Regions from separate parts of the Homo sapiens genome. Here region 1 is linked to region 2. A link means that fine-mapping ties the variant in region 2 to the expression of a gene that starts in the linked region. Tissue or cell type: whole blood. Region 2 holds a variant in brackets; the other region holds the start of a gene. All regions are shown on one strand. Distances are from middle to middle.

Region 1 (4,166 bases), 42 kb before region 2:
TAGAAAAAGTCCTGTATGGTGATTAGTATTTAAAACAGGCAAGTCCAATCATTGAATGCTAAAAGATAAATTATATGACAGCATATCAAGCTGACTCTACTATGGTTTCATGTCACACAAAGGTTATGAGAGGTATATCATTTCTTCTGAGCCTTGTTTTTCAATGCACAGTAAGCAATGCTAATTATGAAAAGCAGGCATCTCTTGGGTTAACCAACACCCTCAATTTCTACCTCTGTTCACCTGCTGACCCCTGCCTTGCTCCCACAACACAGCATCTACTGCAAGAGTGATGCTGAGGGCTGTTTCTAGAACCTATGGCTCCCACAGCATCTCTGTATTCTTGCCCAGCACTGCTCTTTAGCAACATTCAAATAGGCCAGCTCTAAGTAAGATCTGACTTAGGAATGGGATAAGGCAGTGTCCCAAAAGGAGTTTTGCTCACATAGCCCCTCAAAGAATTCTGAAAATCTATGCACATATTTTTAAATAACATCTCAACATCCTTAACATAGTTAAGTGTAAACACTTGAAAAAGGGACATCTTTCTGGCGCTCTATGGGTGGTATGCTTGCTTCATATACATATGCATCAGAACCTCAGGGTTGCAGATTTAGCTCATTCAGTATACAGAAAATGTCTGCTACACAACATAATTGGCAAAGCCAATCCTCATTGACAAGCCAATCAACCCAATAAGACTTTCTGTCAAGGCAACTCCGACATTGTTGTTCAATCAAATATAAAGATAGCCCTGGTGACAACCATCTATCTTCTGGAAGCTAAAAGGAACAGACAGAAAAGCACACCTCAGAGTCTTGTCACGGGCTCCTCACTTGGATGAATGGGGAGAATGAAAGGAGAACTGGCAGGCATCACGCATGTTCAGAGGGAAATTAGTTTCAAGCAGAGTTGGAAGATGAGGATCTGAAAATTAAAACCCTTGCAACATTCTATACCCTGTGAAGTCTTGTGGGCCTAAGGGTATGTGCACAGTTTGGAGACTGCTGGGCAACAGAATTGAAATTCCACTCTGAAAGTATCTAATATAATGCAAATATAAGGTGTTATTTTTAAACCAAAAGCCTCTCTGCATTTCTTTGAGGCATCCTAAGCCTTTGGAAATTTTTAAAACAGGTATCATGTTCTCTTCATCAGAATGGAGGGTCAACAAGAGATTATAATCTTGCTGGTGTAGCCAACCAACTGTATAGTCTTGGATAAACAGTTCAGGGAGTCCCAGGAATTGGTTCTACAATTTCTCTGAGTGCTTTAGAACTTCATTGCTTTTGTTTTAAGCCTCTTCCTAATAATCTTTTAGCGTGTGTCTTAGTCACCTTTACCCTGAAATTCCTAGGTCCATCCATGAGTTCATTATTGGGCCTTATGCCCATGTTCTGTTCTCCAGGGAGGTTGAAGAGGGCCTTTTAGTGCCAGAAATAGAAAAACTTTCAAAATGATATACTAATAATAACCTGCACCTGTCAAGATTATCATATTGTGCCAACAGAGGAGCTGCTTATGCAAACTACTGTAAATTTGTACATGGGAAGACAGAGAAGTGTGTACAGTCACCTTGGAAATGCACTTTGAACATCTCTGTCTCCTAATATGTACGGGGTAAAGGTTGAAAGTAAATTATTGACAATGGGGGAAAAAAACAGATGCAAAGAAGACAACTTTATTAGGTGCTTTCTCTCCCTTATGAGAAGGATTTGGTTCTTTCAGGTGAAGTTCCAAATCACTAGACAATACCCAGTTTCCTTCAGTTGCAACAAGTTCATCCCACGGTGGGTGCTCTGAAAAGCACCTTGAGGGCGAATGGGTCTCAGGCCATTCAGGATCAGGTCCGATGCTTTTGTTGAAGATTCTTCCCGTGTCACCTCTTAGAAGCAGTTCGGTGTCCCCCTCCAAAGAGCCCACCACCTGGCTGCGCCCCACCTCCATTTGTCCCCCAGTTGCCAGGTAAGGGTACCCAGCTACCAGGTAACGGTGAGTGGTTCAGAAGGTGCCGCTGCGGGGGCAGCCAGGCCTTCACACGCAATCACTGGGGAAGAGGCGAGGACACGGGTGGATGCTGGAGGCGCGCACGTGCGCAGGTGCTCGCGCATCCACACACACACACACACACACACACACACACGCACACACAGGCACGGGGTGCGGGGCGAGCAGGGGGAGGGGACGGCCTTACCAGATCAATGAACGTCAGGAATTTCCAGCTCCCTCCGTAGGTCTGGTGTGAGGGCATTTCGATGGCCTTGTAGTTACACAGGATAGAGCAGTAAGACAGCAGGATTGCCATCCGCAGCACCTGGCAGGGGACAAGCGCCATGTTCGCCAGAGGCCTGGACCGGCTGGGCGGCAAGGAGGGCGGGCGTGAGGGAGGCGCCGGGCGCGCGGGGGCGGGCGCCGTGGGAACCCGGGCGCGGGCGCGGGCGCGGGGCGGGGCGGGGCGGGGGCGGGGGCGGGGGCGGGGCGCGCGCCCCCGGGGACTGGCGCGGCCGCGAGCGCCCGGGTGACCTGTACTGGCCGGGCGCGGTTTGCGGACGCTCTCCACTGCCGGCCGCGGCCTGGCAGGCGGCGTGTCGTCATCTCTTTCGTCACCTTCGTCATTCTGCTCCTGCGTTCGCAGGGTCCCGGGACACCCGGCCAGGAGGCGCCCCCTAGGCATCCCAGGTGTGGATGCGACCTCTGAGTGCTACGAGGGCTCGGGAAGTGCGCGCTGATCTCCAGGGGGAAGCGGGCCCTGTGGCTAGTGGGCGCCGGGCCGGGCGAGGGGGCGGGGAACCTAGACTGAAGGAGTGGACCCCAGTGTCCACAAATGTTCCCGCCCCGGAATCGCGGTGACGCTTCCTGGGGTAGTTGCAGTTGGCCGAGAGCTGGTGCCCCGTGCGGAGGGATCCGGTGGGGGTGTGAACGTGGGGTGTAAACCCGAGCACAGGCAGCCGCGAGTGACTTTCAGTATTTTGGGGCAATAAGGTTTTCAGTGTTGACAAACGACTGTCAATCACTAGGAAACTCTCTCAATTCTGCTTTCAATGGGTAGGCTACGCAGCACTTTTCCATGACAGATTGAATAATGTCATATCAGTATATAACATCAGCTAGAATATGAACTTTGGACAAGAGGTTTATAGATAAAAAGCTATAAAGAAAGGATTTTCAAATAACTTTCTGCCACAAGATTGCATTCAGCTTTAAAAAATTCCAATTTTGGATGTAAAACCCCTGCGTGTAATTTAATACTAATCATCTGGTTGTTAAACTGGTTTTGCCCTTACTTTTTTCTTACACTACACTACCAGGGCTTAATGGAAGGAAAATAAATATAAACTGGAGTCCCTCCTGCCTTCCAGTAAATGTTGTCACACTGAAGTTGCATCAGTCTGTGGGCAACATTTTCATTTCAGCCAACCAGTTGCAGGTTCGGATTATGAAAAGGCAACATAGGTATTTCCTGTGGATCCATTTAAAACAGGTGTCCTCTTCAAATAGTCTCTGAGTCAGAGGATGTGGAGGGAGGGCTGGTGGGGAGAAGCATAGTGCTAGAGGTAAAGAGAAAGTAGCAAGCAAGCCATGGATGTTTTCCTGAATGTTTCCAATCAAGCTCTAAACTAAAATGAAGAGACCCACTAGATTTTTTTAATTGGCATTATAATTATGCTAATAGAACTGATGTCAGAAGAAGATTCTACTAGCATTAAAACGATGTATTATTGATGATTTTTGGTTAAATCTTAATGTAAAAGTTGGCTTTATTTTTTTAATTGTGCATCCTTGGTACATGGTTATAAACTGCCAAAAAAATAAAAATAAAAAAGAGTAGATCTATTGAAGATCTACCTACCTTAATAATGTGTCTGGAATTGGTTCCTGCCGGTAGATTAGTGGTCTCAGTGACTTCAAGAATGAAGCGGCAGACCTTGGTGGTAAGTGTTACAGCTCTTAAAGATGGCACAGACCCAGAGTGAGCGATAGCAAGGTTTATTGTGAAGAGTGAAAGGACAAAGCTTCCACAGCATGAAAGGGGACTGGAGCGGGTTGCTGCTGCTGGCTGGGGTGGCCAGCTTTTATTCCCTTATTGTCCTCTCCAGTGTTCTGTTTCTGTCCTATGAGAGTGCCCTTTTTTCAGTCCTCCCTGCGATTGGCTACTTTTAAAATCT
Region 2 (4,166 bases):
TCAATTAAACCTCTTCATAAATTACCCAGTCTCTGGCAGTTCTTTATAGCAGTGTGAGAATGGGCTAATACAGGTGGTATATAGGCAAATGCATGTGAAGCACTACTGAATGAAAAATATGAAAAGATTGATAACCTCTGGCCTTCTTGTGGTCTGAGAAAAACAGACTTCTTACTTTTACTGCTGTGGTCAGGTTTTCTGTTGTCTGTGGCCAATGCACTCCTCATAGTCACAACAAAGAAGTAAACAGACAGTGCTTGAAGATTGTAAATTGGGGTAAATCTTTCTAGAGGAAATACAGAAATATGTAACAAAAATCTCCTGATTTTGGTAACTTATTAGTAAATAAGTTTAAACTTTAATTTGTACATATTTTACCTATTGTGAATGTACATAAAGATTCAAATATTTGAATATTAATTTAATCATTTTGGGTTTGGGGTTTTATTTGAGTCTCACTCTGTCATTCAGGCTGGAGTGCAGTGATATGATCACGGCTCACTGTAGCCTTCATCTCCCAGGCTCAACTGATCCTTCCACCTCAGCCTAGTGGGTAGCTGGGACTGTAGGTACATGCTACCATGCCTGGCTAATTTTTTAAAATGTTTTTGTGGAGATGGGGTTTTGCCATGTTGCCCAAGCTGGTCATGGTCATTGTTAGTAGCATTAAAAAAAACTACTTTATATCCCAACAATATATTATTTACATAAATATTATATAATATTTACATAAATTATGGTTCAACCATCCAATAGAATACTTTACACTCATTAAAACTCAGGTTGTATAACTTCACAGGAAAAGCTTCATAATAAGTGTAAAAAGGAGCTTTCTCAAAGAAGTAGGAATAATCTCATTTTAATATAATGATAATTACATATTTATAATGATTACTTACATATAATTATATAATATATGATTATAAATTATCAATATACTTATATAATTAAATATAGAAAATAATATAAAACATATAAATATTTTTATATTACATAGGCAGAAAAGTTGGAGGATTTTACTAACCAAAACTATAGTAGTGATTATCTTTAACAGTGCTTTTTATTTTTTTACATTACATCTTACATTTTGTATAATACATTTTTTCTACAATTTCAAATTTTACATTGTTCTTGTATTGCTTTTTCAACCAAAAAAGAATAAATATTATTTTTTTAATTAAAACCATGGTTAGAACTCAGCTGATATGAATGTAAAGTCAATGGCTATAAAATTATTTTTTAAATTGTTACACATGGACTTACTCCTAAGTAAATGCATTTCCCCATGAGAAGAATTATTTCTGTCTTTACTTTAGTGTCTAGAATACTGCAATTTTGTGTAAATATGAAATTGGGTCTTGCTCATCTTCATACAACTTTCTTAGGTGCTCATGGCATCAGAGAGCCAGTAGTGTTTTAAACAGAGTCCTTACAATCTGGAAATTTGAGTTCTAAGTTTGGATTATTTACATCTTCAATTGTGTTTTCACTAAGTCCCTTCACTCTTCGGGAATTATAGTTTCCTACATGTAAAAAGATATCTCTTATGATTAAATCATGAGGTATCCTGGGCAGATGATGACTTCAGTGATGTTGTGCCCCCGAAAAAGAGTGTGGCTCAGAGCGGGACATGTTTTCCTTTCCTTTGAATGCATATTACCTTGGTCATCTCCACTGCCTCCTACAAGGCAGATAAGCAACAGATGTGACCATTACAAACACTCGTCAGATGAAGCAGTGACATAAACAGGCAGAGTAGGATGAGGGTGTGTTGTTTTGCAGACCACGTGGGAGGACCAGCTTTCAGAGCCAAGAATGAATATTGGATGAAGTTATTAGGTAAAAATGGACTTGCTCAACATCCCAGAAAGGAAACTCCTCCTGTGCCCGAGTTCAAGAACAACTTCCTAGGGTGGAATGAGAGACTTCAGCTGATGGAGGGGAAAATGACATGCCACCTGGAGAAAAACCCAAGGAGAGACCAATATTCCTCTTGTTCCCCTTACAGGTCTTACACTTTCCCACTGAAACAGGAGTTAACATCAGCACAATTCAGGTGCCCGAGGAGTTCCTTTTTTTTCAGAGGCAGGGTCTCTCTCTCTCTCTCTGTCTGTTGCCCAGGGTGGAGTGCCATGGAGCAATCATAGCTCACAGGAGCCTCGAACTCCTGGTCTCAAGGGATTCTCTTGCCTTGGCTCCCCAAAACTCTGGAATTATAGGCATAACCCACCACACCCAGCTCCTGCGGGGTTCTTTATCTTTGGCAAGTCTTAAGTTAGCTCCAACTTGATTGGGATGAGGATAGAGTAGATTCCTTCTATCTCTTTTTTTAAATTAAAGTAGTTTAAGAAAAGATATGGAAATGCAGAAATGGATACAATGTACTCTAAAAAGATGTCAGGAATACACTCCCTCTCACGTTCTCTCTCTCCCCTCTCTTTCTCTCTCTCTCTCTCTCTCCACCC[C/G]CCTTCCTCCCTCCCTCTCTCTGTTTATGCCAAGCTGAATGGGAAAACGTGACAGGGTACACTTTCTGAGGGTTTCAAAAAGAAAAATAGTAACTTTAAGGTAAAGAAGCCTGGAAGACACCACCTTAACCTACTAATCAAAGTTAACATCATCAGTAAGAGACAAATCAACGGCCTATGTCTCCCGATATGCTGCACTCAAAAGGACATGGCATAATTCCTGTGATTTTTTTACTCAAAATAATTAATGTATATTTAATTGTGGAATCTATCAGATAGCCCTAAATTTGGCCAGGCACAATGGCTCACGCCTGTAATCCCAGCACTTTGGGAGGCCAAGGTGGGGGTATCACTTGAGGTCAGGAGTTCGAGACCAGCCTGGTCAACGTGGTGAAACACCCTCTCCACTAAAAATACAAAACTTAGTCTGACAAGGTGGCACAAGCCTCTAATCCCAGCTACTCAGGAGGCTGAGGCAGGGAAATCTTTTGAACCTGGGAGGAGGAGGTTTCAGTGAGTCGAGATTGTGCCACTGCACTCCAGCCTGGGTGACAGAGTGAGACTGTCTCAAATAAAAAAACATAATAACCCTAAATTTAGAAATATTTCTAAACATAACTGACCAGTGCCCTTCAAAAGTGACAAGAACATGAAAGACGAAGAAGCACTGAGAATCAGTTCTAGAATAAAGGAGAGTAGATATACATGGCAGCCAAAACCAGCATGTGATCATGGATTGGATCCTGGACAATAAAAATGACATTACAGAGACAATTGGTAAAACTTTAAAGAAGGTTTAATAATTGTACTGAATCAATGTTTAATCTCCTGATTTTGATAATTTAGTTACATAAGATGTTAACTTCTGGGAAATTTTGGTGAAAATGTACAAAGATTTTTTGTAGCTGCTTTATAAACCTGAAATGATTTAAAAATGAAGAGTTAAAAAATTAAAAATAAACATATGAAAATGGGCAGAGAAATAATTTCATATTTCACATAGAACTCAGAGTACTTTTAGTAGCAACGGTCCTGTCAAGCAGTAACCCCATTTTATAAAATTAAGGAACTTAGACTAAGAAAGCTGAAGTCACATGCTTTAAGATCACAGAATTAGTGAATGTTGACTTCAGGTCTGTTATGGCTGATAACAGATACGATATTTTGATAAATTGAACACTTTAGTCTCATGAAATGCCCTCTTTATCCCTGGTGATATTTCTTGTTTTGAATTCCCATGTAATCTTAAAAGACACAGTTCAGCTTTATTATGATCAGTGTTTGCATGTTACATCTTTTATCATCCTTTTACTTTTATCCTTTTTTGATATTTAAAGTGAATTTCTTGTAGACAGTATGTAAGTAGCAGGTCATATTTTTTTATTCGGTCTTACAATCTCTGCCTTTTAATTAGACTGTTTATACCGTTTGGGTTTAATGTAATTATCAATACAGTTATGTTGAAATTCATCGTCTTACTATTTGTGTTCTCTTTGACCCACTTGTTCTGAGTTCTTTTTTCTCTTTTCCTGCCTTCTATTATATAAATCAAGTATTTTATATTAGTCTGTTTCATTGGCACTATGACTTACTCTCTCCATTTTTAAAAATGTTTGCTTTAAGATTTACAATATGCATCATTAACTTTTCACAGTCTACCTTCAATTAATATTATGCCTCTTCCTATGAAAAGTAAGAACT

Evidence for each region. PIP is the estimated chance that this variant, and not a neighbour inherited with it, causes the effect.
Region 1: AIG1 starts here. The variant in region 2 is fine-mapped to the expression of AIG1 in whole blood (TOPMed, PIP 0.96).

Annotation. Positions count from the first base shown.
Region 1 is chr6:143,059,095-143,063,260 of GRCh38, reverse strand. It overlaps AIG1 (androgen induced 1), which reads right to left and starts at 2,372. Exons shown (of 6, transcript NM_016108.4): 1 at 2,195-2,372. The coding sequence starts at 2,335. RefSeq lists enhancers at 1,833-1,882, 2,483-2,612, 2,438-3,376 and silencers at 2,073-2,142, 2,393-2,482.
Region 2 is chr6:143,016,765-143,020,930 of GRCh38, reverse strand. The region is part of intron 2 of LINC01277 (long intergenic non-protein coding RNA 1277); the gene reads left to right. Among named protein-coding and RNA genes, the nearest start is that of LINC01277, 19 kb to the left of the region's middle. The variant C/G (reference allele first, on the strand shown) is at 2,466.